Homo sapiens: one gene and its partners. Each later gene encodes a partner of the first gene's protein in a complex. Each region holds a gene or a part of one and is shown in the gene's direction. Other genes may lie near its edges. The genes, in order: ACADM, ETFA and ETFB.

The links.
Region 2: the proteins of ACADM (region 1) and ETFA are in contact, whole or in part, in a crystal structure (PDB 2A1T), measured with the Homo sapiens proteins. Residues at the interface, in NP_000007.1 of Homo sapiens: Pro163, Lys173, Pro211, Gln232, Arg235, Glu237, Val251, Glu253; in NP_000117.1 of Homo sapiens: Arg223, Lys226, Arg249, Asp253, Ala283, Ile284, Gln285, Glu304.
Region 3: the proteins of ACADM (region 1) and ETFB are in contact, whole or in part, in a crystal structure (PDB 2A1T), measured with the Homo sapiens proteins. Residues at the interface, in NP_000007.1 of Homo sapiens: Glu43, Gln44, Lys46, Glu47, Phe48, Thr51, Lys54, Phe55, Glu58, Glu59, Arg80, Glu83, Leu84, Gly85, Leu86, Leu98, Leu100, Ile108; in NP_001976.1 of Homo sapiens: Glu73, Arg76, Thr77, Tyr192, Ala193, Thr194, Leu195, Pro196, Ile198, Met199, Lys202.

Annotation. Positions count from the first base shown.
Region 1 is NC_000001.11:75,717,418-75,728,059, forward strand, and holds the start of ACADM (medium-chain specific acyl-CoA dehydrogenase, mitochondrial isoform a precursor), read left to right. Parts: upstream 1-7,291; 5' UTR 7,292-7,370; coding exon 7,371-7,400; intron 7,401-10,642. UniProt on the Homo sapiens protein: Medium-chain specific acyl-CoA dehydrogenase is one of the acyl-CoA dehydrogenases that catalyze the first step of mitochondrial fatty acid beta-oxidation, an aerobic process breaking down fatty acids into acetyl-CoA and allowing the production of energy from fats.
Region 2 is NC_000015.10:76,285,333-76,295,279, reverse strand, and holds part of ETFA (electron transfer flavoprotein subunit alpha, mitochondrial), read left to right. Parts: intron 1-2,579; coding exon 2,580-2,661; intron 2,662-2,766; coding exon 2,767-2,849; intron 2,850-7,334; coding exon 7,335-7,434; intron 7,435-8,798; coding exon 8,799-8,909; intron 8,910-9,541; coding exon 9,542-9,643; intron 9,644-9,947. UniProt on the Homo sapiens protein: Heterodimeric electron transfer flavoprotein that accepts electrons from several mitochondrial dehydrogenases, including acyl-CoA dehydrogenases, glutaryl-CoA and sarcosine dehydrogenase.
Region 3 is NC_000019.10:51,362,246-51,372,191, reverse strand, and holds the start of ETFB (electron transfer flavoprotein subunit beta), read left to right. Parts: upstream 1-5,803; 5' UTR 5,804-5,865; coding exon 5,866-5,922; intron 5,923-6,062; exon of another isoform or gene 6,063-6,163; intron 6,164-9,946. Other genes in the region: protein NKG7, read left to right, coding at 1-31, 118-252, 357-415; CLDND2 (claudin domain-containing protein 2), read left to right, coding at 3,615-3,783, 4,166-4,306, 4,616-5,187. UniProt on the Homo sapiens protein: Heterodimeric electron transfer flavoprotein that accepts electrons from several mitochondrial dehydrogenases, including acyl-CoA dehydrogenases, glutaryl-CoA and sarcosine dehydrogenase.

The DNA of each region.
Region 1 (10,642 bases):
CACATGGACACAAAGAAGGAAACAACAGACACTGGGGCTACTTGAGGGTGGAGGGTAGGAAGAGGGAGATCAAAAAACTACCTATTGGGTACTACGCTTATTATCTGGGTGACAAAATAATCTGTGCACCAAACCTGTGACATGCAGTTTACCTATATAATAAACCTGCACACGTACCTCTGAACCTAAAATAATTTTTTTAAAAAAATAAGGTGAATTTAAAAATATGTATATTGATGGGGGTGAAACTTAGAGAAAAATTAGAGTCATGGGACTCATCCCAGCAAGGTGGGAATCTTCAAATGGTTATTAAGAAATGGAATGAATAAAATGGAAATTGATGGGGTTAAAACAAAGGTCTTAATACAACACTGCCAAAAGTTCGGTGGACCAAAGGGAGCCCCTGCTGGTCCCTCAACATTAAAGGGCCAATTTTCTGTATTTGCCCGATTGGAGAAATCGTAAAAGAGAAAGCTGACCAACAATTGCCTGAGGTAATGTTGAGGTGGTTAATGAAGATATACAAAGTTCCTTGGCTCAATTCCCTACTGGGAACACAAAGTGTTTTTCACCAGAGGCTTTTTTACAAAATGATCTTGGGTGGAGAAGAAAAGTTTCTGGGGCTAGAACACAAAAATGTAAAGATTGATAGGATTATGAAAGTTAAAAAGTTTGTAAATAAACTTTATATAAAGTTGTGACACCTTTACTTAAATGTTTCATGAAAACGGACATTGTATCTGACCAGAGCATGTTTCTCCTACTTAGTACTGCAAACTAGAAGGCATTTCTAGTAATGGTAAATCTGCCATTTAAGCAATATTAACTGGACATGCTAAATGGGAGCCAGTAAATTGCTCAAGCCCTCAGAGGGTAGAGTAGAAGATGGAGTGCTGGTAGGGATGAAACCTCCACTTGATAGCCCTTTGTGGAGTGTTTACTAGGGGTCATAGCAAAGGCCTGTGAGCACCTCCCAACAACCACTACTGGGACTGTGGACTACAGAATTTCTACTTGAGAGGCATTTCTGCCTTGGAATGGGACATTAACAGAAGCTATCCCTATGACTGGAGGACATAAAATGATCTTGACACCTAAAATACACATGCTGTCTGGAGTGATGTCAGAGAAACACTCTAACGGGGATAGCAGTGCCCAGAAGAGTACATAATAAAATGGGAATGGATCTTGCTACCTGAGGAGTGCAAAGAGGATATACTCATGAGCTGCGAGCCTCTTTCTCTCCTAGGACTGATCCTGGAACTGGTGAGGAGTTGCTGGATACCATAGTACCTGACAAACAGCTCTAACCTAAGAGTTGCTTGGCTTGTGGATGGCAGTTCCAAGGTCATCAGGCAACATCCTGTTTGGAAGGCATTACTCTGATTGAAGAAGAGTCAAGAAAACTTTTTTGTTTTGAGCTCTTTATAACTTATAATGATTAAGTGTATTTTTGTAAGCAAAATTTGTCCTTCTCTCTATATGAGTTCTCCCAAATTTGAAAACTATTTGTGTTATTTTATGGCAATATAGTTATGTACATATGTTCAATATGAATGTTTTCTTTTGTAATAGGACACAATTGGAGACACATTATTTTACCAAGGCTTTGACTGGAATGGTCTATTTTCAGACATGATCAATCTGCTTGGGGAATTGAAGTTGACTGCAGAGAGCCAATAAAAAGCCCATGGAAAGACTGGTTCCCTAAGAAGTTTCCTGACCCGTGGTAAGTAATGAATGTCACTTTCTAACAGGATCAGAAATCTCAAGATATTTTGAGACCTCAAGAAGAGAGAAATTTGTACAGGTATTATAAATGCAGTCTAATGGTGAATCCTTGGCTTTGCTTCTGGCGTTGAGGCTTTAAAACACTGGAATAAAAAATTCTGATAGTTCTAGCAAAGCCAACTTAAAAGGAGCCTATATGGCTGATCACTATTCCTGCTACAATTTATTCAAATAACCAGGCCAATATAATGAGACAAATTTATTTTGCAAATAAATTGGTCCTAGTATAATTTATCCTTGGTAGAAATAAGAAAACTGGAGAAAAAAAAATCTTAGATTCTAGCCCTGACCACTGCTTTTGAGTTTTTATAATTTGCCTATAATTTGGACTAAATCCTGAATTATTTCCTGGCTACAAGAAGTCTCTAAAAAGGAACTTGGTTTTAATTTTCTTCATGATGCTTTTAGTTGGCTGCTTACTCGAATAGGCTCCTTTCATTTTTGTTCTGGCATACAAATTCTCTTCTGATTGTAATCCTTGTGTGGATTGTATTTCTACTATTCAAATTATTGATGCTATGTATCTTTTGTTGTTTTACTTCCGAGAAAACTAAAGTCATAGTATTCTGAAGACTAGAGAAATTCAACGAAGCCTGTCAATCTCCCTTGTTTGAAATCCCAAGGAGTATGTTGGCAATGAGAAACCAATATGGCCCAGTGGGATTTCAAAGGCTCTGGGACCATTGCAAAAAAGAAGGGTGCGTGAGACTCTACACATGAATTAGTGGAATGTGGAGGACAAAGCAACGCCACCTAGGATGTTAATCCACCATGTGGACTTCCCCTGTTCTGGGAAGGCTTCTAAGATTTCCCCTCTCTCTATTGTTTCTTGTGTAAAAGCATGTACTTACTGTAAATCCTGCCCTTAGATCAAGACAACTTTGATGTTATTGTATTTCAATTGTCCTACATGTCCCTTCTGAGTCACCCTTTCCCTGTGGTATACAACCCCTGGGTCTGAGGGGTAATGGCACTGGGATCCACCATCTTGTCTCACTGCCGCCTGAGATGCAGACAGGGCTTCTGTTTTTAAGTCTCCATTAAATGTTTCTTTTTGAGAAACGTTAATGTGTCAGCCTCTTTCTTTAGCCTCTCAGCTTCCTTAGACTTTGGAGCGTAGGTCTGTATAGTCCTGCTTACCTTGAAATAGATGGGTTAGGGAGAAGGAACACCAGGGAGACGTTCGAATTATTTCACCTAAAAATGTAGAGAAGTTTTGTGAAACAGTGCTTAATTAATAAAAAGGTATTTCTTGAGAGATGGTTCTATTCCTACTACTGGCAAAAATGTAGATGAAAGATTGTTTGGCATGATGCCAAATATTACCCTATAAATTACTTCCTAATTGCAAAGGGAAAACTATAACTTTACCATAGAAAGAACTGTCTGTCAATAATCAAATGATCAAATAGCATTGTCAACAAAGAGTCAAACTTTGTAAAATATTTGAAGAGATTTATTCCGAGCCAAATATGAGTGATCATGGCCCACGACACAGTCCTTGGGAGATCCTGAGAACATGTGCTCAGGGTGGTTGGGGTGCAGGTTGGTTTTATATATTTTAGGGAAATATGAGACTTCAATCAAATACATTTAAGAAATACATTGGTTCAGTTCAGAAAGACAGGACAACTTGAAGCAGGGGTGGAGCTGGGGGGGTAGGCGGGGGGAGGTTCCAGGTTATAGGCAGATTTAAACATTTTCTGGCTGACACTTGGTTAAGTTTATCTAAAGACCTGGAACCAACAGAAAGGAAATGTCTGGGTTAAGATTAAAGGATTGTGGAGACCAAAGTTCTTATTGTGCAAAGGAAGCCTTCAGGTGAGAACAGAAAAGCATTCTGTTATCTCTCTCCTTCAGAGAGAAGAGATTGTAAATGTTTCTTATCAGACTTAAGGTCTGTGTTGATGTTAACATCACTGAGGTATAAAGAGGCATGTCCAACCCCCACTTCCCATCATGGCCTGAAGTAGTCTTTCAGGTTAAATTTAAATTTTAGAGTGCCCTAGCCTACGAGAAAGTCCATTCAGATAGTTGGGGGGAATTTAGAATTTTGTTTTTGGTTTACAGCAAGCTTGTCCAACCTGCTGCCCACAGACCACATGCAACCCACAGGCCACATGCAGCTCAGGACAGCTTTGCATGCAGCCCAACATAAATTTGTAAGCTTTCTTAAAACGTTATGAAATTTTCTTGCGTTTTTGTTTTGGTTTGTAGCTTATCAGTTAACATTAGTGTTAGTGTATTTTATGTATAGCCCAAGACAATTCTTTTTCTTCCAGTGTGGCCCAGGGAAGCCAAAAGATTGGACACTGCTGGCTTACACCATCACCAATAGTGGGACAAATCTGATATTAAATGCCTCCTAATGTAATACAATATTAACTACACAGTATGACCTTTGAAGTATCCTTATCCAATGTTTAATCTGAACTCCTCAAGCCTCTGGTAACTTGCAACTGATAGGAAATACAAAATCTAGAGGTACAAAATAAATAAAATCGGACAATCCAGCATTAGGGCATTCTTCATGACAACTGCTTGGTATCTTAAATTTGTTTAAAAAGACAGTTATTATTGGGAAAAATGAATTAGATTAAAAGCTTTAGATTAAAAGAAGCCAAAGAAAGTTAAAGCCCAACTTCAATGGGCAATCATTCATAGGATCCTGGTTCAAAAACAAACTATTTACAAAAGGTATTCTGGAGACAACTGGACAACTGGAGAAATGTAAATATTCTCTGGACCTTAAATAATAGTAGCGAATAATTGTTAATTTTCATTGATGTGATAAAGGTTTTATAGGAAATGGTTATATAGGAAAATGTCCTTGTAGGAGACATATAGCTAAAGTATTCTGAACTGAAGTGTCTTATCTACAACCTACAGATCTGAGAAAAATAAAACCAACAACCAAAACACACACACATAGGTACACATATAAATATATAAATAAATATGGAAAAATATTTGAATCTAGGTGATAATGATATTGAGAAGAAATTACTCAGGCCGATAGTACGAGTATGGGAGTCCTCAGTGTAAAAAGTGAAGTAGAGGTTCCTCTTCAAATGGACTTTCCTTTCCGTCTAATTAGGAATAAACAGTAACTTCTCTTAAAAGCAAAATTTATTCAAAGAACTGTGCTAACATATTGGAGGCCGAAACAATGAGGTTCGTGATCAACTCAGTATATCACTGGAGGCTATATGAGTAAGCAGCAAACTGTTTCTCATAAATGCAGAACGTTGGCGAACTGACAAACTGCGTATGCCACCCAGGAGGACTGCTGAGGGTAGTTACGATCTAGGCACAAATGTTTCTTATGATTAGGCATAATTGAAGCCTGTCAGTAACAATATGAACCTGTGATCAATTAAGCAGCTGACCAATCGTTACCACCTCCTCCCTGCTCCTGTTACCCAAAAAATAGGAAGGGCTGTGGAAGCTCTGTGGCTGCCTTTGCTCACGAGAAGCAGGGAGCTCTCTTCTTCTTCCCCTGGCCCTTTCCTTAAAACAGTTCCTTTTGTCTTAAGTTATCATTTCTACGTTCGTCCCTTCATTTGATCTCACAATGATGGTCTCAAGCAGTAACAGTAGTAACTGCTGTAACGATGGTCTCAAGTAGTAACCGTGGCAGTTGGCCACACTAACATTCTTTGATATCTGTTGGCCGTAATAAAGAAATCAATGTACTTTGTGCTCTTAGCTGCCACATTTTAGCCTAGATATTTGCCCTGGCATGCTTATACTGGTCCAAGGAAGCATTAGGCCATAGCCTGTTTTCTTCCTTATCTGGAGGTGTTTTTACCTTTCTCAGCATTCCACAAGTTGCTTCCTCCTTCCTTTGTTCTCCTCTGTCTTTGCCTCTTTTGGAAAGTTCTAAGTTGCTAGCCAATCAGGACAAGTACAGAGGTCCCCTTCCAGCCAATGGAAACCGGACACGGTAGTAGGGTGCACGTGTCAGGTTATAAATGACCCTGTCTCCTTTATGCGTGTGTGCTCTCGTGGCAAGACTACTAGCGAGCGGCAACCTTTCTGCAGAAAGTAAACTAGCCTTGCTAAGAGCTCCTTTGTCTCAGTGTTGATTTTTGCAACACTGAGCGCCCGTTCCCAACATCAGTAAGGCTTTTCTTTTTAATGAAAAGCAGCCCCAAATCCTTTTCTAAGAGCAGCCTGTGAAGTCGAGCTGCAGGCACAGACAAACAAGGGGGTAGCTTGCTTGGGTGAATGGTGGCAGGAACTACCGACTAGACATGTTTAAGATGAGGGCTCCATCTTCGCTTCTCTGCCAGCCACGTGTACAGTAAGAAGGGGTTACAATAGGCATATGGGTGATTTTGTGCTTTTCGTTCATCTTTTCTGTGTTTAAAATGTTCAGAATAAGAAATTGGAACAAAGGAGACATGAATAGACAATTCCTAATCATCTTTAAGAGTCCGCTTTGTGTTTTACTTACCACCACCACTTTGAAGGCTTTCTTGCCTATACCAGGACAAACTCAGCTCTTTATCCCTTTTCCGAATTTTCCTGGTACTTTCACTTTGAATATAGCGCTTAATTAACATTCTGCCTTGTACCTAGGACTAACACACTATAAATTCCCAGAAGACAAAGTAGGGGAATACAATAACAGGATATAGAATTTTAACAGCTAAATTAGATGAATTTATGGGTGACCTTTATTGGGCAAAAGAAAATGTTAAGTTAGTATAAGATTTAGTATAAGCTACCATCTCAAAACTCAGGGTCTCACTGGAAGAGAAAGTGACTCCAGGTAGAATTCCTCAGGGAGACATTCACTTCCATCATTCGCTGAACCAGGAGCTTTGGACAGCCTCGGATTGCACCCGCATATCCAAGGACACCACATCAGCGGACAAGTCATAAACAGCCTTGGGAATACGCGGAAAGGTCAAATTTACCTAAACAATTAAATTCTCTTTTAAATTTTAAGGAAACACAAGTATGCTTTCGCTTTAGGTAGGGCATTTGAGAGCAAAATGTACTAATACTTTGAATCCGCCAAGCAGACACGATCTGGGTTTGACCGTTCTCTCCGGGTAAAGGTGAAGGCTGACCACGGGGGCCGCTCTCCCTCCAGGCCCCAGCCACGCCCTCTAACCCAGGTTCCCGTCCTGCACCGCGCCGCAAGTCCCCCCACCGTTCAGCGCAACCGGGCCCTCCCAGCCCCGCCGCCGTCCCCCTCCCCCGCCCTGGCTCTCTTTCCGCGCTGCGGTCAGCCTCGGCGTCCCACAGAGAGGGCCAGAGGTGGAAACGCAGAAAACCAAACCAGGACTATCAGAGATTGCCCGGAGAGGGGATGCGACCCCTCCCCAGGTCGCAGCGACGGCGCACGCAAGGGTCACGGAGCATGCGTTGGCTACCCGGCGCCGGGGACCGCTGCCACCCCGCCTAGCGCAGCGCCCCGTCCTTCCGCAGCCCAACCGCCTCTTCCCGCCCCGCCCCATCCCGCCCACGGGCTCCAGTGGGCGGGACCAGAGGAGTCCCGCGTTCGGGGAGTATGTCAAGGCCGTGACCCGTGTATTATTGTCCGAGTGGCCGGAACGGGAGCCAACATGGCAGCGGGGTTCGGGCGATGCTGCAGGGTGAGAGGGAGCCCAGCGGTGCGGTGGGGCTGGAACATGGGTATTGTGGTGTCGGAGCAGGGGGCCCTGGGCCAAAAATAGGTGCGGCCGGGAGGAGTGGGAAGTCGGGCTGAGGAAGGAGCCAGCCTAGGGGCCCCCAACCTGCTTTCACGCCTCCTACCACCGGACGGAACGTAGCCTAGCGTTTCATTTTCCGTATCCTCCCGTCAGGCGACCCCGTTATAGCCGGCATCCTCTCTTTAGAATATCGTTTTTCTTTCTCTGGTAAACCCTCCAAATATTTACCGCGGGAATCCCACCTTTTTCCAAAGTGACCCCGTCTCTGTGTCAGAACCACGGGAAAAAGAAAAATGGAGCAGCTACTCCTTGAAATACTTAATGTTTAATAAGCTTTTCGTTGTAACGTTTCCACGTTGCTTACGGGAAAAAAAAAAGTAAAAAAAAAACCTGCAGAATTTTATGTGAACTTGTGTGTATATTCTAGTATTGGATCTTAATAGATTCTAAATAAGTTTGTCACTAGATGAATTTTGGTATCTTAAATATTCTTGATATGTTCACACCACTGCCATTTAGATGTCACTTAAAATTAAGTTAAAGTTATGTCTTGGACCAAAAAAGCTGCGGTTTTAGAATAATCCTAAAGAATTGCTGCCCATGTTTTGCTGGTGTTATGCAAGTTAATGTGCAGTGAAGGCAGAAATTGGGAGATTTCAGCTATTTTTAACTCCTACACCAGAAAAGCAGATTTCTCAACCTCCAAGGAAGGATCTAAAAAAAACCTGATATAGAAAACTTACACCCTTTTTCTCTTCTTTAACCCATAAAACTGACACTCTTATATTCCCAAGAAATGCACAAAAGTGTTCAATTCTAGTGGTGCTGTTTCGATATTTGGAATTTCATTGTTCTAGACAGAGAGCCCGAAGTAATAAAACCAATAGTTATATAGCATTAGGCTTTCAAAACATTATCGTACTTTAATCGTCCGAAAATACGCAGTGAGATTAGTCCCATTTTTTGGTTTTGAACGGAAGCTATAAGCAGTTTGTAAACCTGTCTACGGCCACAAATATGGTTGTGGAACCTAGATTCACATTCAGCAATTATAACTCCAGATCCCGTGCTGTTTCTGTTTTCTATTTGCAAACCACCTCTCTAATTAACTGGCTAACTTTGTTATGTAATTAACAGGTTGATGGGCATTGTATTCTGGTAATAGCAACCTTTGCACTTTGTTCTATGTAACATATTTTCCTGAACAGTCACATGTGAAGTGACTTTTTCCCTATTTAAATTCCCTCGGTTGGCCAGGTGCGGCGGCTCACGGTTGTGATCCTAGCACCTTGGGAGGCCTCGGCGGGTTGATCACTTAAGGCCAGGAGTTCGAGACCAGCCTGGCCAAAGCAGGGAAACCCTGTCTTTACTAAAAATAGGAAAAATTAGCTGGGCATGGTAGCATATGCCTGTAATCCCAGGAGGCTGAGTCTGCAGTGAGCGGAGATCTCTCCACCGCACTCTAGCCTGGGTGACAGAGGGAGACTCTGTCAAAAAAAAAAAAAAGTCCCTCAGTAGACCATTTAACCTGGTTTGAGTTCTGACTTTTGTGCATGGTATTTAAAAACGCATTTATAATAGAGTCAGGTTTTTTGTTCTGATTTTTGTGGAATGTTTTCCTTTGTTATGGAACCTAGTGACCAATTAGGATACTAACAGAAAGATCAGTATAGCAAGGTGGTTAATAGCATGCGCTCTTGATAGTAAATGTTAGAATCCTGGTTGCACTAATAGTAGAGTGACTTTGCCTAATTTAGTTGACTTTCTGAGCCTTCGTTTCTTCACATGCGAAAGTGGAATAAAAGTAATGGCTTAATCCTAGACTTGACCTGGGATTCAGTGAATTAACCTGTGTAACGCGACTGTAAATCAGAGTAGATTTGGTCTGTGACTGCTGGACAATAAGCACCAGAGAAACTGTTTCACTTTTTTTTTTTTTTTTTTTTTTGAGACGGAGTCTTGCTCTGTCACCCAGGCTGGAATGCAATGGTGCAGTCTAGGCTCACTGCAACCTCCGCCTTCCGGGTTCAAGCGATTCTCCTGCCTCAGCGTCCCGAGTAGCTGGGACTACAGGTGCGTGCCACCACACCTGGCTAATTTTTGTATTTTTAGTAGAAATGGGGTTTCACCATGTTGGTCAGGCTGGTCTCAAACCCCTGACCTCGTGATCCGCCCACCTCAGCCTCCCAAAGTGCTGGGATTACACGCATGAGCCACCCCACCTGGCACTGTTTCACTTTCAAAATAAAATTAATGAAGATGCAAAGAAAATGCGAGTTTTCATACTCTGTATGTTTTTATTACTGTAGTATGAGGTATGTTATTTGGAAAGCACTGTTTCAATTACAAATATTTGACACTCTTAATTATATTGTCACCTTACATGTAGGAATTCGTCTTTTATAAGTTGAAATTGTCATCTACAAAGACAGTTTCTTTTTACGGATTTTGAAAAACATAAGAATTTAAATAAAGAAACTTTAGTATATTCTTCAGCTGCTCTTTTCTCTTAGTATCTAAGCTTGTTAAAATTGCTGGATAGTTCAATTAAAATCTTTTACAGTGAAAATTGTGTAATTTTGACTGTCCTGAAACCTTTACTCAAGAACACCATTGTGGTTCCCAGTTTGGCAGCTTTAATAAATGCAAATTTTTACTTTTGTATCCATTAAACTGTCATGAATATAAAAATGGGTTGCAAAACAATAATATATGTATATTTGATTGTTTGTTTCTTTATATGTTCCTTTGAAGAAATATGACTATATTTCAGATCCTAAGACAAGTAGTGTATTAGTAGTTTAGAAGAGGGATGGCAAACGTGTTTGTAAAGGAACGGATAGTACATGTTTTTGGCTTTGTGAACCAGATGGTCTCTGTGGTAACTACTTAGATCTGCTGTGAAAGCGGCAATAGACAGCATGATGTGGCTGCACTGGTTTGGTGACTCCTTGCTCAGAACATTGTAAGAATCCCTGTAGACAGCAGAAAATACAGAACATGGTTTTATGCTAATTTGTTTTGTTAGAGTGGGGTATCCTAAAAAATGAGATCCTCTGAGGGGAAGGTTTCCAGAGGCATGCATGGGAGGCTCACAGTGACAGGGTATCAAAGTTGATGGACTAGGCAACTCTTGAACACAGTATGTTCACTTCCAGCCTATCGTTCTCCCCACCCCAACTCTC
Region 2 (9,947 bases), on another chromosome or scaffold:
GATGAATATACTTGGTAATTGCTTCTAATTCCTGAAAGTGGTAAATCTGGACAAAGTATTATGGATGTTAATTTTTAATTGGTAGAAGAATTTGAATGTTAAGTACTATTCTTTCCAAACTCTAGCTGGTACTAAAAGATGTTCTTGGGTTTGTTTGTTGTTGTTGTTGTTGTTATTGTTGAAATCAGATGATAACAGCTTGGAACACTAACCCTCTAGAAAGGTGCTATGATATGATTTGCAGGGTCTATACCACCAGCCTGCAATATAGATGAGTGCTTCAGTTAAGCTTACACACCTTCAGCCACCAGTTCCCTCTCACATGGTATAGGAGTTGCTGAGTGTGTAGTTGGGGGCTTAAACTTCACAGAGGAATAAATCTGAAGGGAGTATGTTTTGAGGATTTTATGTTTTATTAAATAATTGATGCTGGCTGGGCATGGTGGCTCATGCCTATAATCCCAGGACTTTGGGAAGCTGAGGTGGGTAGATCACTTGAGGTCAGGTGTTTGAGACCAGCCTGGGCAACATGGTGAAATCCTGTCTCTACTAAAAATATAAAAATTAGCCAGTGTGGTGATGCATGCCTGTAGTCCCAGCTACTTGGAAGGCTGAGGCACGAGAACCACTTGAACCTTGGTGGCAGAGTTTGCAATAAGCAGATATTGTACCACTGCACTCCAGCCTGGGTGACAAAGTGAGACTGTGTCTCAAAAAATATATTAAAAATAACAATAATTCAGAGCATGTGATAATGGAGGTTCATACTGCTGGTGTTGCTTCTGTCTAATTTTTTACATGAAATTGATAAAAGAACATATTCTGGTGGGTTTATGATTAGTTATGTGGATTTCTTTACCCAATTCCTGCTAACAACTGTAGGATCTTACATAGTTGATACAGCCACAATGTGTGATGTGTGATGGCTAAGCTATCTATTTGTATGTCTGTATTAGCCACAGTATATGATGGCTAAGCTATCTTTTTGGTTTCCCTGTTTTTGGATATATAGGAATTTGTGATTTGTTGTTTGTTTTGCTGTGATTTAAAATAATTATTGTAATATTACTTTAAAAAGACTTTGATACTTTATACTACTTTGAGAAAAATCAAAATAGAAATCGTCTTCTGTACTCAGTTACAATCCTAACCTGTCATGTTCTAATTTTAAAGAAAACAACCAGTACCTGTATGAAGAGATCGTTTAATAGAGTTCGGTTTTATACCATTTTATTCAGCTACTTGTCATAAACAGCAAGTTATTCTTCTGTATAATGCCAGCCGTTTTGCCAGTAAAAACAAGATAGTTTCAATGGGAAAATTCTGCCCCATTTTCTATCCCATGCTGCTATGCAGCTACATTGCAATTAACTGAGTTTCTTAATTGGAAATTCTCTTAAAGTTTGAGAAGCTAAATGCAGCTGCATCCATAATAAAGGGCCTCTGTAGTACAAATGGTATGCCGGTGAACACTTGGTTTAGCAGAGAATGTATTCTTGCACTGCATCCTTTCTTCAGTGAATATTGTTGCAAGCTAACAGTTCATATGAGGGTGGCACAAGGCACAGCCTTTTAATCCTACTCATCAGTGAATCAATGAATCAGTTTGGAGGTAAACAAGGAGACAGAAGACGATAGTATGACTGATATGACTTAGCTAAAGTGGAAACCAGCCATGAGGTAATAAAGATACTTAAAAAGGGGAAATCTAATTGCCTTCTGAATATAGAAAATCTGAATCATCAAAAAGCTTTCTCAGAACCCCATTCTAATTCCAAACAGGAAAAATGAAGAATTAAAATAGGAAATATTTTGCTTTGTCATAGATAAATATGTGTATGTGGGCAGGAACTCAGTGGTTGACAATGGGATGTTACTAGAGAACTTCATTTTCACCATTTCCAGGACATTGAACTTACACTTGGATTGAACCAAAAGTAAAAAGCACAATTTATAACAAAATTTGAATAAAGAGCCATGTTGATTTTGGTTTGTCAATTAGCACTTTTCTTTTTCAAGGCAGGAATTTTTGTTGAAATGCTTGGTAGTTGGACAGTGTAAGGTCAGTCAGTAGTAAGATCTATTGGCATTAGATTTTCTTTGTTAAGGAATGTATTTTAATATTTTAATTCTTTGTTTGTTTGAGATGGAGTTTCACTCTTTCGCCCAGTCTGGAGTGAAGTGGTGTGATCTTGGCTCACTGTAACCTCCGCCTCCTGGGTTCAAGCCATTCTCTTGCCTCAGTCTCCCAAGTAGCTGGGATTACAGGTGCCCGCCACCATGCCTAGCTAATTTTTGTATTTTTAGTAGAGATGGGGTTTCACCATGTTGGCCAGGCTGGTCTTGAACTCTTGACTCCGGTGATCTGCCTGCCTCAGCCTCTCAGAGTGCTGGGATTACAGGCTTGAGCCACTGCGCCCGGCCGGAATATATTTTAATTCTTAACTGGCCCTTTTGCTAATAAGAATAATTTTTACAGTTGGCCATTAAGATTTTATGATCTGTTGATATTTATAGTGGTGGCTTTATTTGTATATTTCTGATAGATGGATAATTAGGAACTTATCTTTTAATCATAGGTGGCACAAGATCTCTGTAAAGTAGCAGGCATAGCAAAAGTTCTGGTGGCTCAGCATGATGTGTACAAAGGCCTACTTCCAGGTGAGGTTTTCCAGTAGAAAAAAATGTAGTGTCTAAATTACGCTTGAATATATGAATATGAAAGTATTTCAAAATATTTTTTTATCAAATGTGTTTAATTCTCAGAGGAACTGACACCATTGATTTTGGCAACTCAGAAGCAGTTCAATTACACACACATCTGTGCTGGAGCATCTGCCTTCGGAAAGGTGAGAAGGTTGAGAATGTGGAATCTGATATCACTGCTTGAAAGGGTTAGATTTCATTGTGCTGAAAGTATGCAACAGACTGTTTATGTAGCCAATCTGGATTTATCTGAATTGATGTGGTAGTTTTGCTAAAATTTATTCTTTCAAGATTTTGTCATAATTTTCCGTTAAAACTACCATTTCCAGGTTTTCAAATTATGTTGTGGAGAAAACTCTAATTAGGCTATTATTTTAAAATTTTCTGCATGTAAAAGTAATGCTGAATTCTGCTTGCATGTGAGAGAGAGAGTGAACGAGCAAGAGTCATTTCTATTAGTAGCCCATTTTAAGAGATGGTTTATTTGGATGGCTGATGGATATCTAGAAAAGCCAAATTTTATCTACGTAGGGAATTTGGAAAGGGCTTGTGGTGGTTGAAGACATCCTTAAGGTAAAGAAAGCTGTAATCTGATCATGTGCATTGTGATGTGTCTGAAGAATGAGTGTGTTATAAGATGGATAGCAGTCTACATAAAGTTAAAAATGGAGGGAGGAGTGTAATGGGAGCTTAAGACAAGGAATTCGTCAGTGGATTTTTCTTGCTCTCTCTCTGTGGCCGTGGGTGTTATCTTAGCTCTCTTTTCTTTTGTTCCATTCTTAATAAGGTGTCATTTTTAGTCTTTATTTTTACTTTCTTTTTTTTGAGATGGAGTCTCACTGTCGCCCAGGTTGGAGTGCAGTGGCGCCATCTCGGCTCACTGCAGGCTCCGCCCCCCGGGGTTCACGCCATTCTCCTGCCTCAGCCTCCCGAGTAGCTGGGACTACAGGCGCCCGCCAGCTCGCCCGGCTAATTTTTTGTATTTTTAGTAGAGACGGGGTTTCACTGTGTTAGCCAGGATGGTCTTGATCTCCTGACCTCGTGATCCGCCCGCCTCGGCCCCCCAAAGTACTGGGATTACAGGCGTGAGCCACCGCGCCTGGCCTACTTTTTTTTTTTTTTTTTTTCGAGATGGAGTCTTACTTTCCTCGCCCAGGCTGGAGTGCAGCAGCACAATCTCAGCTCACTGCAACCTCTACCTCCTGGGTTCAAGCCATTCTCCTGCCTCAGCCTCCCGTGTGTAGCTGGGATTATAGGTGCGTGCCACCACACCTGGCTAATTTTTGTATGTTTAGTAGAGACAGGGTTTCGCCGTGTTGACCAGGCTGGTCTCGAACTCCTGACCTCAGGTGATCTGCCTGCTTCAGCCTAGCTCTGTTGCCCAGACTGGAGTGCAGTGGCACGATTGTAGCTCAACATACCCTCCAACTTGTGGGCTCAAACGATCCTCCTATCCTAGCCTTCTGAGTAGCTAGGACTACAGGTACATGCCACCATGCCCAGCTAATTTTCAAATTTTTTGTATCGATGTAGTCTCCCTATGTTGTGCGGGCTTGTCTTAAACTCCTGGCCTCAAGTCATCCTCTCATTTCAGCCTCCCAAAGTGCTAGGATTACAGACATAAGTCACTGTGCTTAGCCTATTTTCACTTTTAAAAATTGTAAAATAAGTTGTACACAAATACATCCTTATTAGGAAGACTGCGTGTAGTACAGCAGTGTGCAGAGCAAGGTGTCAAAGTCCTGCTTTCTTATTCCCAACTCACCCTCCCCTCTTTAGAAGTATAGCTGTTAACAATTGTACATTCTTTTAGGCCTCCTTCTATGGATTTTTAAATTACAGTACATGTACAGCTATATATTTTTTACTTCTAAAATGGGATAATATGGCATGAATTGTTTTGTGAATAGTAGCTTTTACTTAAGAGTATGACTTGGGCAGGGTGCGGTGGCTGACGCCTGTAATCCCAGCACTTTGGGAGGATTGTCTGAGCCCAGGAGTTGTAGCCCAGCCTGGGCAATACAGTGAGATCTCATCTCTACAAAAAAATGAAAAAAAAAAATTAGCTGAGTGTGGTGGTGCATGCCTGTGGTCCCAGCTACTTGGGAGGCTGAAGTGGGAGAATTGCTTGAGCCTGGAAGGTTGAGGCTGCAATGAGCTGAGATTACACTGCTGCACTCCAGCCTGTGCTCCAGGGTGACAGAGCAACACCCTGTCTCAAAAAAAAAAAAAAAAAAAAAGAGTAGCGACTTTGGCTCATAATGTTTCTCTTTTTTTATGGCTGCATAAGATTCCATGTTTAGCTAAGGACAGTTAACTTGGTTCCAGTTTTTTGCATTTATATACTTTACTGCAAGAAAACATGGTCATGCATGTATCTGTGTAAACATGGGCTGGAATTTATTTACAATAGAGTTCTAGAGGTGAAATCACTGAGTCAAATGCTATGTAGTTTAAAAATTTTGATACCTATTACTTAATTGTCAACACTTGGTAGTATACATTTTAACATTTTTTCCTCCAGTCTGATGGGTGAAATAATCTTTGTGGACCGTTCTGTCTCTGAGAGTTTTGATTATATATTGGATGATTTAAATAATTTCATGAGCCTTGAGTTTCCTTCTATGATGACAGTTCACCTAACAGAGTGTTAGACCATGAAAGGGTGTTTGTCATTAGCTAGATTTTAGTACTCTGGCCATGATTGCTATGTTGTAACAGATGGGAGTTTTGAGAATAAGGGTCACATAATAGTAGCTGGTCGTGCGGCCTGTAAATGGGTTTGGAATGAGAAACGTCTATCAGAAGAAGCCAAACAATTTGCTGTATGATAGTCCTTCACCAGCTGTGGTTTTGAGATAACACACTTTTATACTTGTCTGCTAGAATTTTAAAATATGTCATTTTTTATGCACAAAAAGAACTCAATTATTGCTTCTTCTTCCCAGAAACCATGCAGGCAGCTTGTTGGATGGGATATATTTTTAATAGGATAGATATCTGTGTACCATCCACCCTCATGATGTTTAGATAGAAGACCAGATCCAGGAAAACATACTTTTAAGTACCATGGTAAAATTTCTTGAAGATATGTTAAACAAGGGATAATGAAAATACAAAAGACATTAAATTTTGAGCAATTTAGAAAGTTCTAAAACTTTTAAAAGAGGCAAAGTCTGTATAACATAAAATTTGTAAGATAATCTGTTCAGCCAAGTAACTATTCCAGTAATAATTCCTGAACAGTTAAAGAAGGTGGTTCAGGAGGAGGATTACTTACTGAAGCTAGCTTTAAATACTGACAAATCTGGTTTTTAAACCAGATTAAGTAGGTGCTTCAGAATGGGCATGGTGGCTCATGTCTGTAATCCCAGCACTTTGGGGTGCCAAGGCAGGAGGATCAGCTGAGGCCAGGAATTCGAGACCAGCCTGGACAACAACGCAAGACCCCGCTTCTACAGAAAAAAACAAAACATAAACCAAAAAATGAGCTGGACGCAGTAGCGTGCGCCTGTAGTCCCAGCTACTCAGGAGGCCAAGGCAGAATAATCTCTTGAGCCCAGGAGTTCAAGGTTACAGTGAGCTATGATCACACCACTGCAAGTTCAGCCTGGGTAACAGAATGAGACCCTGTTTCCAAAAAAAAAAAAAAAGAAGAAGAAGAAGAAGAATTAACTGAGACTTGGGGAACTGTGACTTTCCCAAGGATTCCTGCTGCTGAGGACAAAGTTAGCACATGCATCTATTTCAGTACAAGCACAAGAACACACCTTTATTTTATTTTTGTTGCTTTTTAAATATGTACTACACAGGCTGTTCTTCAGGTTAGTGTTATTCTTTTCCTTTTTTTTTTTTTTCTTTTGAGGCAGAGTCTCGCTCTGTCACCAAGGCTGGAGTGTGGTGGTACTATCTCAGCTCACTGCAACCTCCGCCTCCCAGGTTCAAGCAATTCTCATTCTCATGCCTCAGCCTCCTGAGTAGCTGGGACTACAGGCATACACCACCATCCCCGGCTAATTTTTTGTATTTTTAGTAGAGATGGTGTTTCACCATGTTGGCCACATTGGTCTCAAACTCCTGGCCTCAGGTGATCCTCAGCCTCCCAAAGTGCTGGGATTACAGGTGTCAGCCACTGTACCTGGCCTTACTCTTTTTTTTATACAATATCAATTTAAACAAAAGGTGAAATGTCTGCTGTGAATTTTTTTCTTTTATATACATTAAGTAAATGTATACAAGCATAATCTTTTTCAGTATTTGAGAATTTTACCACCCTTCTAAATTTGTTCTATCTTTTCTTATCTAAATTCAATAATCCACAACTGTCACACTTGGTAATTGATGTTTATTAAATTTCATATCTCATAGTTCAATATATTGCATTAAGGTGGCTTAATACTGTAAAACTCATGAAACTCTTAATGTAGTTAGAGTAATGGTAAGTACTCAATCTCAAAGGCTATTTAAAAAGCTGTGCTTGAAGTTGTGTATCCAAAGGTGCACACGAAATATAAAATATTTGAATTAAAATTTCTACAGAATATGCATTTAGAATATGTCATTACTGATCATTTATAGTCTTCCATCACTATGTATGTGTGTTAACTCACTGCTTATTTTGCTTTTAGAACCTTTTGCCCAGAGTAGCAGCCAAACTTGAGGTTGCCCCGATTTCTGACATCATTGCAATCAAGTCACCTGACACATTTGTGAGAACTATTTATGCAGGTGAGTACTCAAGGAAGATAATTAATCAACATGTTAAATTTTAGTGAAAAGCATAAATTAATCTTGAAGATAGAATTTTAAATCAAACCATACAATTGCTTTAAGTGGACCATCTTAAAGGTTTCTGAGGAAAATTTTAGTCTAGAATTGCTGGTGGCCCTTGACATGGCATTCTCTCTGATGGATCGCAAACACAGAGATTTCCTGCCTGTTTATTCAGTTTGCAGGGTGATATTTTCCTAGTGATCAATAAAAATTAGATTCACAATTTAATATATTTTGTAAGTGGTACCTGGAAAAGCAAAACTTAAAAAAAAATAGTATTCTCAATCTTTGCTGCTTCTACTTCATTTCCATAGGCATTAAGAAATTCATTTTAGCCAGCTGCAGTGGCTCGTGCCTATAATCCCAGCACTTTGGCAGGCTGAGGTGGGAGGATTACTTGAACTCAGGAGTTTGAGGCTATCCTGGGCAACATAATAAGACCCTATCTCAAAAATAAATAAATAAAATAAATTAGCTAGGCATGTTGGCATATGCCTGTAGTCACAGATACTTGGGAGGCTGAGGTGGGAGGATTGCTTGAGCCAGAAGGTCGAGGCTATGGTGAGTTGTGATCATGCCACAGCACTCCAGCCTGGGCAACAGAGCAAGACCCTGTCTCAAGAAAAAGAAAAGAAATTCATTTCAGTGTCTCTTCAGTTGATTTTTTGCTTAGCACACTGGTCTCTAGTGGGGTCGGAGAAGGCAGTGAACTCTTCGTTTTTTGCCTGATTAAAGTTGTGTATTCCAGTATGAATGGCTAATTCTGAAATTAGACTTTTCATCTTCCATAATGTTTGAGGGAAAATATTTTGTCATGGTTTAGGTTACTGTTAATGTGATAGCTAATCCAGAGTGTCTCAAATCCTCTTAAAATCTTAGCACATTCATACCTGTTCTTTATGACCTATTGTGTTTTCAAGATATTCCTCCTTTAGCATGCACAGTAGCTACATTCTTCCTAAGTTGTTGCAGCTCATAGTTTTGAGTTACTGATTGTATTGTTTTTGGAGAAGGAAGCTTTGTTCATATTCCTTTTAGAGGTGTAGTGTACCTTCTTAGTGTGGATGCCTGTTCGAGTTTCTTCCTTCTAGGTGTGGTAGTACCTGTCCTGCTTTTAAAGACATCCAGGGTTATACAGATATCTGCTGATATGTTTCTTCACCGTTATGGTTCATTTTTTCCTATACTTAATAGAGTTAGAAGACAACTGGTCAATAGTTATTTCTTGCCTTGTCTGTGAAGTAAATTCCAAGCATCAAAGGAGTGCTAGTTTTGTTGCCTTTTGCTGTTGCTTTTAAGAAATAGATTGTATGTTTCAGGAAATGCTCTATGTACAGTGAAGTGTGATGAGAAAGTGAAAGTGTTTTCTGTCCGTGGAACATCCTTTGATGCTGCAGCAACAAGTGGCGGTAGTGCCAGTTCAGAAAAGGGTGAGTGTTCATTTGGAGTTTTTTTGTTTTGTTTCTTACTTTTTTAATTCATAGACTGTATTATAATAAGAGATGACCTCTGCCTACATTTCTAATGAATAGTATTTGAAAGTTCAATTTAAATGATATTCCCAAGCTTATACAAAAATAATAAATATGTATAACTTACATCTTTTTCACATTATCTTTGGTACTAGGATAGTTGCTTTGGTAGATCAAGGGAGTGGGAGACAGAGGATCTATTAAGATTAAGCTTTTTTACTCTTGTCACTGTTTCCTATTATATTTGGGTGATTCAGTATAACAGAAGAATGTAATAGGAAACGTGTGGAGGGTGTCACACTTTAACATATATAGTGTCTTATTTGAACCTCATAGAAAGAAAGTTATTCTATATTCAGACTCAGAGAATTGAATGATTTCTGGAGTCATACAGCTAATGTGGCAAAGGCTGGAATCTAGTCTCCTTAAGTCTTTCCATTATCAGAGAGAATTAATTAGGAGCACTGAAAATTCACAGTAATTAACTTAAATTTCGTGGAATTATATACTTGTGTGTTTCTCTTGAAAATAATTCTTGTTATAGAACTTGAAATCATAGTCATTGTTTTATTATGTATTAATGTATGCAGCATCAAGTACTTCACCAGTGGAAATATCAGAGTGGCTTGACCAGAAATTAACAAAAAGTGATCGACCAGAGCTAACAGGTGCCAAAGTGGTGGTATCTGGTGGTAAGTGAAATATTAATCTTAAAAGATGTAAATTGAAAATACTTTGATTTTTTTTTTTATTTTTAGTATTTATTTTAGAAGTACACAGATCTTTTTCAAATGTAAGAAGTTGGGAAGTTTGGGATATTATTCCCATTTAACCAATTAGGAAAATGAAATTATGAGCATAATACACAGTTTGGGGTTTCTGTTGCACACCTAGTCACTGGCACCAGGGGGAGCATGGTATAAATCTTATCTGCATAACTTTGCCACTTGGTGCCATCTTATTGATGGACTTCCATGAATTCTGCAGAGTATGGTT
Region 3 (9,946 bases), on another chromosome or scaffold:
CTTGTCTCAACCACCGCAGCCTTTGCTGCAGGTAAGGACTCTGGACTGGACTGGGGCATCGCGAGCCAGCGAATTCCTGCCGAGGAGCTGAGCCATCTCTCTTGTCCTTGTCCCCAGCCATCTCCATGGTGGTGGCCATGGCGGTGTACACCAGCGAGCGGTGGGACCAGCCTCCACACCCCCAGATCCAGACCTTCTTCTCCTGGTCCTTCTACCTGGGCTGGGTCTCAGCTATCCTCTTGCTCTGTACAGGTGACTATCCTGCCCACTGCCCTGGGGAGCTTTGGGAGGGTCCAGTTGGGGTCCCTGAGGACAGAGGGCAGGGGCAAGTGCTTAAACTCTTTCTGGCTCCCCAGGTGCCCTGAGCCTGGGTGCTCACTGTGGCGGTCCCCGTCCTGGCTATGAAACCTTGTGAGCAGAAGGCAAGAGCGGCAAGATGAGTTTTGAGCGTTGTATTCCAAAGGCCTCATCTGGAGCCTCGGGAAAGTCTGGTCCCACATCTGCCCGCCCTTCCAGCCCTTCCCCAGCCCCTCCTCTTGTTTCTTCATTCATTCAACAAAATTTGGCTGGAATCTGGTTATTTTGAGATTAATTCTGCCAAGACATAAGCCAACTGTCTGCCAGCTCCATGGTAGGAGCTGGGCACCAAGGGAAGGTGAGGGCCCACCAGGCCGACCAGCCTGCAGGGCGCTCCTGCCCAGTACGAGTGCCCGGCCCGTGTGGACACAGGCTCCAACCCGTGTCTATGTCTCCCCTTCTCCAGCACTTTTCTTCCTCCCTGTGTCTTTCTCCCTTTAGCTGGCTCTCTTTCCTTCTCTCTCCCTCTCTGATTTTGTCCCCCTTGCCAGAACTCAGCCCTTCCTTGCACTCAGTCAGTTCTCTTTGCACATTTCCCCATGCTGGGGACACTGGCACGGGTCAGACCCAGGCCCTGCCCAGCAGGGGCTCAGTCTGTGGGGTGGTGGGGAGGAGGCACTTACAGACCAGAAGCAGTTAATACAGGCCAGACAGCAGTCCCAGTGCAGGGAGAATGCCGGAAAAAGACTGACCATATTGTGGAGGGATGGAGACGACTTTTCTGGAGAGAGAACATTTAGGAGCTTCTTAAGGGCCAGGGAAAGGTAATATCCAGGCAGAGGGGCCCAAAGATGAACGTGCAGAAAAGTCAGGAGTCTTGTGGGGATGAAGATCGGTAATTTAGGGTCAGGATATAGAATGTGGGGGGCGGGGGATGGAAAATGAAGAGGGAGAGGCAGGTGGGGGCTGTGGCCTCTAATGTCATGCTGGACTTTCTCTTGAACATGATGGGGAGTTGGGAGAAAAATTGTGGGCAGGGGAGGGACAGTGTCAGCTCTGGGTGCCAGAAAGACCCCCCTGTAGACATGGAGGGGAGGCCAGAAGGTGAGGGAGGAACTTGGCAATGCAATAGGTGGGACATGATGAGGCCTGACCTGGGACCAGGAAAGGAGGGAATGAGCCAGACAGATTCAGGGGCAGGAGGAGCAGGACTTAGGGACCCAAGGCTTTTCAGGGTGAAGGGCAAGAAGAAGGTGAGGACAGTGCCCAAGGGTCTGGCTCGATGAACTGGATGGGATGGCAGGGCCATCCCTAATATGGTGGAAGACACTAAGCTCAGTTGGAATATGGTTGACTATTAAGGCCCTGAGGGGCAGCCAGGAGCAGGTGAGAACTTGAGTCAGGCTCAGGGGAGAGACCTTGGGTTGGAGATGGAGTTTTGGATGGAGCATTAAGGAGCACTGAAACTTTGGCCGTGAGGAGGCTTGCCTGGCAAGAGAGTGCAGGGTGGAGCTTCAAGGGATACCCAGATTTACAAGTGAAGGGGAGAAGGCAGAGGAGCAGAAGTCTGCAGTCAGACAGCTGGGGACCTGGAGAGCTTCTGCGGTGCCTAGAATGTCAAGGGAAGAGAAGGTTGTTTTTTTTTTTTGAGACGGAGTCTTGTTCTATCACCCAGGCTGGAGTGCAGTGGTGTGATCTTGGCTCACTGCAACCTCTGCCTCCCGGGTTCAAGCAATTCTCCTCCCTCAGCCTCTTGAGTAGCTGGGATTACAGGCGTGCGCCACCATACCTGGCTAATTTTGTCTTTTTTTTTTTTTTTTTGAGATGGAGTCTTGCTCTGTCGCCCAGGCTAGAATGCAATGGCGCGATCTCAGCTAACTGCAACCTCCACCTCCCGGGTTCAAGTGATTCTCCTGCCTCGCATCCCCAGTAGCTGGGATTATAGGCACCTGCCATCACCCCCGGCTAGCCTGGCTAATTTTTGTATTTTTAGTAGAGACGGGGTTTTGCCATGTTGGTCAGGCTTGTCTCAAACCCCTGACTTCAGGTGATCTGCCCGCCTCGGCCTCCTAAAGTGCTGGGATTACAGGCGTGAGCCACTGCGCACCCGGCCAAGGGAAAGAGAAGTTTCTAAGAAAGGGCTGGGAGTGGTGGCTCACATCCATAATGTCAGCATTTTGGGAGGCCAAGGTAGGAGGATCGCTTGAGCCCAAGAGTTTGAGATCAGATTGGGCAACATAGCAAGACCCCATCTCTACAAAAAATCTTAAGAAAATTAGCCAGGTGTGGTGGCACATGCCTGTAGTCCCAGCTACTCAGGAGGCCGAGGCAGGAGGTTTCCTTGAGCCCAGGAGTTCAAGGCTGCAGTGAGCTGTGATGGTGCCACTGCACTCCAGCCTGGGAGAGAGAGATGGCTCACGCCTGTAATCCCAGCACTTTGGGAGGCTGAGGCAGGCAGATCACAAGGTCAGGAGTCCAAGACCAGCCTGGCCAATATGGTGAAACCCCGTCTCTACTAAAAATACAAAAATTAGCCAGATGTGGTGGTGTGCGCCTGCAGTCCCAGCTACTTGTGAGGCTGAGGCAGAAGAATTGCTTGAACCCAGGAGGTGGAGGTTGCAGTGAGCCGAGATCGTGCCACTGCGCTCCAGCCTGGGTGACAGAGCAAGACTCCATCTCAAAAAATAATAATGATAATAATGATAAAAGAAGGACTCGGCCTATCATGTAACGGCCCCCAAAGCTGAGATCTGAATCTAAGCAGTCACTCAGTTGAGAGCTGCGGGGGTGTATGCGATGGTGGTGGGGGGAGTGATTATCCCTTTAAACAGCCACTGGGGGAGGGGGTTCTGGAACCCCTGGCCTCACAGAGACCCAGCCTCCCTCCCCCCGTCTCTCTGGGCTCTGTGTCTAAGGAGCCCTAGGGCACTGGGTGTGAGTCACTTAGGTGGGCCTGTGTGGAGGGGTGTCTGGGGAGGACATTGAACAGGCTGGGCTGAAAGGGCGTTCGGCTGTCGGGGGAGGTCTCTGGGAAGACAGGTTCCTCACAGCAAAGCCTGTGGTGAAGGTCTCAGAGGCCTCTCAGGGGAAGTCTCAAGGTCTCCAGTAAGGGGAACGAGGTCTGGAGGGAGGAGGTTGTGGATCCTCAGGCAGGGTTGTTGAGGGAGGGGGGTCTCCAGGTCCCCAGAAGCAGGGACCTCAGGCAGGAGTACCAGGGGAGGAGTGTGGAGGAAGCGGGCTCCTCAGCTGGGGGCCTCGGGGTAGGAAAGGCCTGGGCCCATCCTGCCCTTGTGGCCCCCGGCTGCAGCCTCAGTGGCATGGGGGTGAAGCGGAGCCTCCAGAGTGGGGGCATTCTGCTCAGCCTCGTGGCCAACGTCCTCATGGTGCTCTCCACGGCCACCAACTACTGGACCCGCCAACAAGAGGGCCACAGTGGCCTGTGGCAGGAATGCAACCACGGCATCTGCTCCAGCATCCCCTGCCAGAGTGAGGCTCCGCCCGCCCAGATGTCAGAGGGCATTTCAGACCCCCAGGGCTCGGGACACACAGCTGGGCCCATGGCGAGACGCCCACCCCTTCCACCCCGGGCTCAGTTGCAGCTGTCCCTTGTCGGCCGAGGCCGCCACGAACCCCGCCCCTCGACTTGTGGGCTTGTCCCCGACCCCCTCCCCGTCCTGGTAGCGGCAGTAACCGCAGGTCCTGATGTGACCTCCAAGTCTCAATCCAAACGCCTGACTCCCGGTCGGTGGAGCTCGGCTCCTGGCCACACACCGGGTTGGGGGCAGGAGACGGGAGAGCTTCCGGTTGCGGCCGAACCCGTAGTGACTGGGGCGGCGCCCGCGGGGGCTGATGCGCCCGCTCTCCCCAGCCACGCTGGCGGTGACTGTGGCGTGCATGGTGCTGGCGGTGGGTGTCGGCGTGGTGGGCATGGTGATGGGACTGCGGATTCGGTGCGACGAGGGCGAGTCGCTGCGGGGCCAGACCACGAGCGCCTTCCTCTTCCTCGGCGGTGAGACTGCAGACCGCCCCAGGCGGGCAGGCAGGGGCGGGCCCTGGGTGATGGAGGGGCCTGGTCGCCAGGGGAGGGGCTTGAGGTACTCGGCCAGGATCCGAGGGGCAGGGCTGGAAGAAGCCGAGAGAGGTGGGCGGGGCTCGAGACAGAGTTCAGAGCGGGAGGAGCAGGAAGGGGCCTGGGCCAGGGGCGGGCTGAGAGGCGATAGGCGTGGTCTGATAGAAGGGGGCGGGTCTGAAGGGGCGTGGCCTGGGTGCAGCCCCCACCAGGCCCAGCTAGCTCATCTTGCGGCTGGGCGGGGCCCAGGACTGCTGCTGCTGACCGCCTTGATAGGCTACACCGTGAAGAATGCGTGGAAGAACAACGTCTTCTTCTCTTGGTCCTATTTTTCTGGGTGGCTGGCCTTACCCTTCTCAATTCTCGCGGGTAAACTGGACAGCGGGAAGAGGGTGGAGGAGACTGCCCAGAAGACCCTCACCCCAGAGGCTCCCCAGCTGCCCTCCCAGGAAACCCCGGGGACCTCTCGGGGACTCCCCAACACACTAACGACTCCCGCAGACCCGGCAGAGACCCCCTTGGAGCCCCAAACCCCAGTCCCCGGGGCCCTCCCGGCCATCCGCCCCAGGGCCCACCTTCCTCTCCCTGCTCCGCACCCCCGTCCCCCCAGGCTTCTGCTTTCTGCTGGCAGACATGATCATGCAGAGCACCGACGCCATCAGTGGATTCCCCGTGTGTCTGTGACTGCAGCCTGCCTGGGGCAGAATAAAGGAACGGCTTTTTTTAGCGCTGCGGCTCCGCGTGCTTTTCTGCGGGTCGTGGGGACGCAGGCACGGGGTTGCATAGAGGCTCAGGGAAGACATAAGGACATGAACTCATAGGGAACGTGGAGACAGGGAGACACAGACATGGAGACACAAGTCTCCATGGATTGGGATGGGAACAGGGACATGTGGGAGGGGCGGGGCCAGGAGGGGACGTGGGCCTTTGGAGAGGGTGTGGAGAGGCTGTGGGGACGACATGGAGGTGAAGTAGAGACACGGACAGGGGAGGATACGGATATGGAAGGGACAGGGAACACGGGGATGGAGAGAGTGGAGAGACCGACGCGCGAGGATTCAGAGGCGTGGGAATACGAGTACCGCGACTTGGAGAGGCCGGGAAGAAGTGGGGGATCTGGAGAGGGAGAGCAGATCCGGGGATACCGGGAAGTGTTTATAGGACCGGGAGGATCTATAAACTCCGGGCGCGCTTCCCTCCAGTGCACGACCTTTCCCCTAGTTCTCTGCCCTGCCCTCTCCGCCAGGCCTTTCCTTCTCTCTCCAGGTCCCGCTCGCTCCCCGAGATCCGCTTCCCATTGGTTTGCATTGCTTGCCACACCTCCCTTCCTTCCGGCCTCTCGATTGGTCCTCTGTCGGGGAGGCGGGCTCTGCAGCGGTTGACTGGCTGACCGTGCTGCGCGCAGGCGCAGAGAGGGGCGCGGGGGGCGGGGGTGGTGGGGCTTCTGGACTGAGCCGCTGAGGGTGCGGGCTGACCCTGTAAGTGGCTGCGGCGGGAAGATGGCGGAGCTGCGCGTGCTCGTAGCTGTCAAGAGGGTCATCGACTACGCCGTGAAGGTGATCGGGCCCCCCTCTCCCACATCCCTGAGTCCCGCAGCCGTGTGCTTCCGGGGCCACGAGCGCACACTGGGTGGGGGTCTTCTCGTAACCCCCGACCTCTGCCGCTTTAACCCCCAAACGTCAAAGTCACCTGAGGGCAAAAATCCAAGAGTGAAGTTCTAACATCCGATCCCTCCGGGGTCACGGCCATGTTCTCTTTTCCCTCGTTCTGGATTCACTCTCTTGATAACTGTTCAGAGTGAGTTGCTTTCTCTATTTCTTACCCACTGGAAGAAGTCACGGTCCCTGTTTAATGCACGGAGAAACTGAGGCACAGAGAGGTCACCCAGCTAGAGAAGGGCAGAGCCGAGAGTTCTATCCAGGTTCCTCTGACTGCTTTCACCCACTAGGCTGCATTACTTACCATTGTACTCTTATATTACCCGAAATGTGCTATAGAGGGAGTCAGACAGGGTCCTGTGGGGCCCCAGAAGCTGCTTTCCACCCTCCATAGCCACAGGGTGAGCCAGGAGGCTCTAGCTAGGGAGAGAGAAGTGTGTTTGCTAGAGATGAAAGTTCAAGGAGCCAACCTGACTGAGCTGGGGGTAGCTCACATTCTCCATGAAAGAGGTGGGGGAGGGTGCTCTCAGCGCCTGGCTTGTTGTCCCCAGAGGGAAGCTGGTGTGGACAGAGGTGAATCAGACACGGTCTCTCAGGCCCGTTTCTCTCAATGCTTGGCCTGAACTGGACTGAAGATGGTGACTGTCTGTCCATGTCTGTCCTTCCCATCAGCCTGGGGACTTACCTCCGTGTCCCCAGCATTACCTAGCGCAGGGCCTGGCACCCTGGAGGCCTCAGGGTGGGCAAAACCAGGGTCACAAAGTTGACACTGATACTGCCCCTGCCTGCTTAGGGAGTGGGCTGGGGAAGAGGGTACAGGAGCCAGACTTGAGCATGAAAGTGTCAGTGATGATAGCAGCCAGCATTTAGCGGGTACTTACGTGGCAGGCATCGTTCCAAGTCCTTTGCAGAGATTAACCCATTCAGTCCTTTCAGTACCCTTTGTATTATTTATTATTTATTTTTATTTTTTGAGACGGAGTTTTGCTCTTTTTGCCCAGGCTGGAGTGCAATGGCGCAGTCTTGGCTCACTGCAACCTCAGCCTCCCGAGTTCAAGCAATTCTCCTACCTCAGCCTCCCAGGTAGCTGGGATTACAGGCATGTGCCACCACACCTGGCTAATTTTTTGTATTTTTAGTAGAGATGGGGTTTCACCATGTTGGTCAGGCTGGTCTCAAACTCCAGACCTCAGGTGATCCACCCGCCTGCCTCGGCCCCCCAAAGTGCTGGGATTACAGGTGTGAGCCACCGTGCCTGGCCGACCCTTTGTATTATTAATTCCATTGGATAGATGAGGAAACTGAGGCCTGTCAGATCTCCCAGCCAGTAAGTGGCAGAGTTACGATCGAAACCCCGGGCAAGTCTGGCTCTAGACTCTGCTCTCCCATCTCCCTCAATGCCCCCTGTCCTAATGATGCCTCTGGCAGCACATGACAGGGATGTCACCTGTAGCCCTTTTGAGACACATTCCTCTTGGGGTCCTGGGACCCAACACTTGGTTTCCTCCCTGCTCTGACTGTTCGTTACTGTCACATCTTTGGAGTCCTACAGCTCCCTGGGCCTCTTCTCTCCATCCCAGCCCTGGCCTTCCACGCCTGGCATGTCTGGGATTGGATCCGTCTCCCCCATGGTGCAGGCCCACGTTTGACTCAGCTCTGGTCCCAGCATCACTCAGCACAGAGCCTGGCACATGGATGTCTCTGGTGTGCTCAGGGAGAGAACAGAGGGGAAGCGTGAAGGCCGCGTTGAATCAGCTACTGTCCTTTCCAGAGGGTGCTGCCTTCCCCTCCCGCAGTGCCCCAGGGCTCCCTGCATTACATCCTGTCTCACTGGATGTGTCTGTTGATGTCCTTTTCAGAACAAATAAATGATTCAGACCCTGCCAGCTTCCTAAACACCAGATTAGACCTGGGTACTGTCCCACCCTCTTTCCCTTCTCCCAAAGCTGTCAGTTCTCCACCCCCCACCCTTCTTGCCCTATTGTCTCTTGGTGTCATTGTCTCACCTGGACCCTCACCCGGGTCCTCCCTCACTCCCAGTCTCTCCCTCTCAGCCCACCTCTACCCAGCCTTAGGGGCCTTTCTGCACCCAGAGCTCACCCTGCTCTCCCCTGCTCCCAGCCTGCCTGTGGCTCCCCAGCACCCTCAGGACAGAGTCGCAGCCCCTCTGCCTGGCATTTGGGATGCTTTGTGGTCCAGCCTCCTCTTCATGGTCTGCTTCAGCCGTCCACTTCCCTCCTTGGACCCTCCCTTACCCTTTGTGCTTCTGCCACTGTGACCTGCTCCTCCTGTCCTGACAGACCAGGCCGCGGCTTGCCCGTTCCATGCCTTCTTCCAGCACCACCCTCCTACCTCTGCTTTCTGTCCTTTGTCCTGCCCAACTCCAACTCATGGATTATATCAAAATCTAGTGATTCTCGGCCAGGCGCGGTGGCTCACACCTCTAATCCCTGCACTTTGTGAGGCTGAGGCGAGTGGATCAGTTGAGGTCAGGAGTTTGAGACCAGCCAGGCCAACATGGTGAAACCCCATCTCTCCTAAAAATAAAAAAATTAGCCAGGCATGGTGGCACGTATCTGTAGTCCCAGCTACTCGGGAGGCTGAGGCAGGAGAATCGCTTGAACCTGGGAGGCAGAGGTTGCAGTGAGCCAGGATTGTGTCCCTGTACTCCAGCCTGGGTGACAGAGCTAGACTCAGTCTCAAAATAATAATAATAATAATTTAGTGATTCTCCCTGGCATCGCCTCCTCCAGGAAGCCCCTGACCCTACACCCTCAGGTTGCCTTGGTATATCCCTGGGGGCTTCTGCAGTCCCTAGATTTGCTTCCATCAGCCCTCGCCAGACTGGATTGGGATCCTCTGTTTACCCCATGTTCCCCACTGCCCTACTCCATCATCCCCAGGCTGGTAGCTCCCTGCAGAGAGGGGCCATGTCTGATCCACCTCTGTTCCCAGAATCACGTGCTCACTCCCTGACCTCTTTCACCTCCTTTTCAAACATCACCTTCTCTGGGAGGACTTCCCTGCTTGCCTCCTTAAAATCACAGGCCCCAGGTCCCTGTGTTTTGCTGTGTTTTCCCCTATACTTAGCAACTAGAAAGGGAGAGGAAAGTATGTTTGCTAGAGATGAAAGTTCAAGGAGCCAACCTAACTGAGTGGAGGGAGTGACTCACATTCTCCATGAAGGAGGTGGGAGCAGGGGCACCCTCTGAGAGCCCAGCTTGTCCCCAGAGGGAAGCTGGTGTGGACACTTTGTAATCCACAGTGTTGTTTACTTATTGATTGCTCTGGTGTCTGTCGCCCCTTCTGGAATTTGAGCTCCAGGTGTGGGGGAGACAGTTTGATGTGGTCACTGCTTCCTGAGACAGTGGGTTCACTACTAGAATAGTGCAGACCTCAGACTCCAAGCCCAGCGCCTGCGTCCACTTCCTGCTGTGTGACCTTGAGGAAATTGCTTCACCACTCTAAGCCTCATTTTTCTACTCTGTACAATGGGGATGATGGTACTATCTACTTTATTGAGTTGTAATGAAAATTAAATAAGCCCTTGGAACAGTGCCTGGCACACAGTGGTTTGTTTTGTTTTATTTTTTGAGACGGAGTCTATCTCTGTTGCCCAGGCTGGAGTGCAGTGGCATGATCTCAGCTCACTGGAACCTCCACTTCCCAGGTTCAAGCAACTCTGCCTCAGCCTCCTGAGTAGCTGGGATTACACGTGTGAGCCACCACGCCTGGCTAATTTTTGTATTTTTAGTAGAAACGAGGTTTTGCTATGTTAGCCAGGCTGGTCTAGACCTCCTGACCTCAGGTAATCCACCCGCCTCAGCCTCCCAACGTGCTGGGATTACAGGTGTGAGCCACTGTGACCAGCTGCAATAAGTGTTTTTATTGGGAGTAGTAGTAATGGATGTTTAGTTAGTCA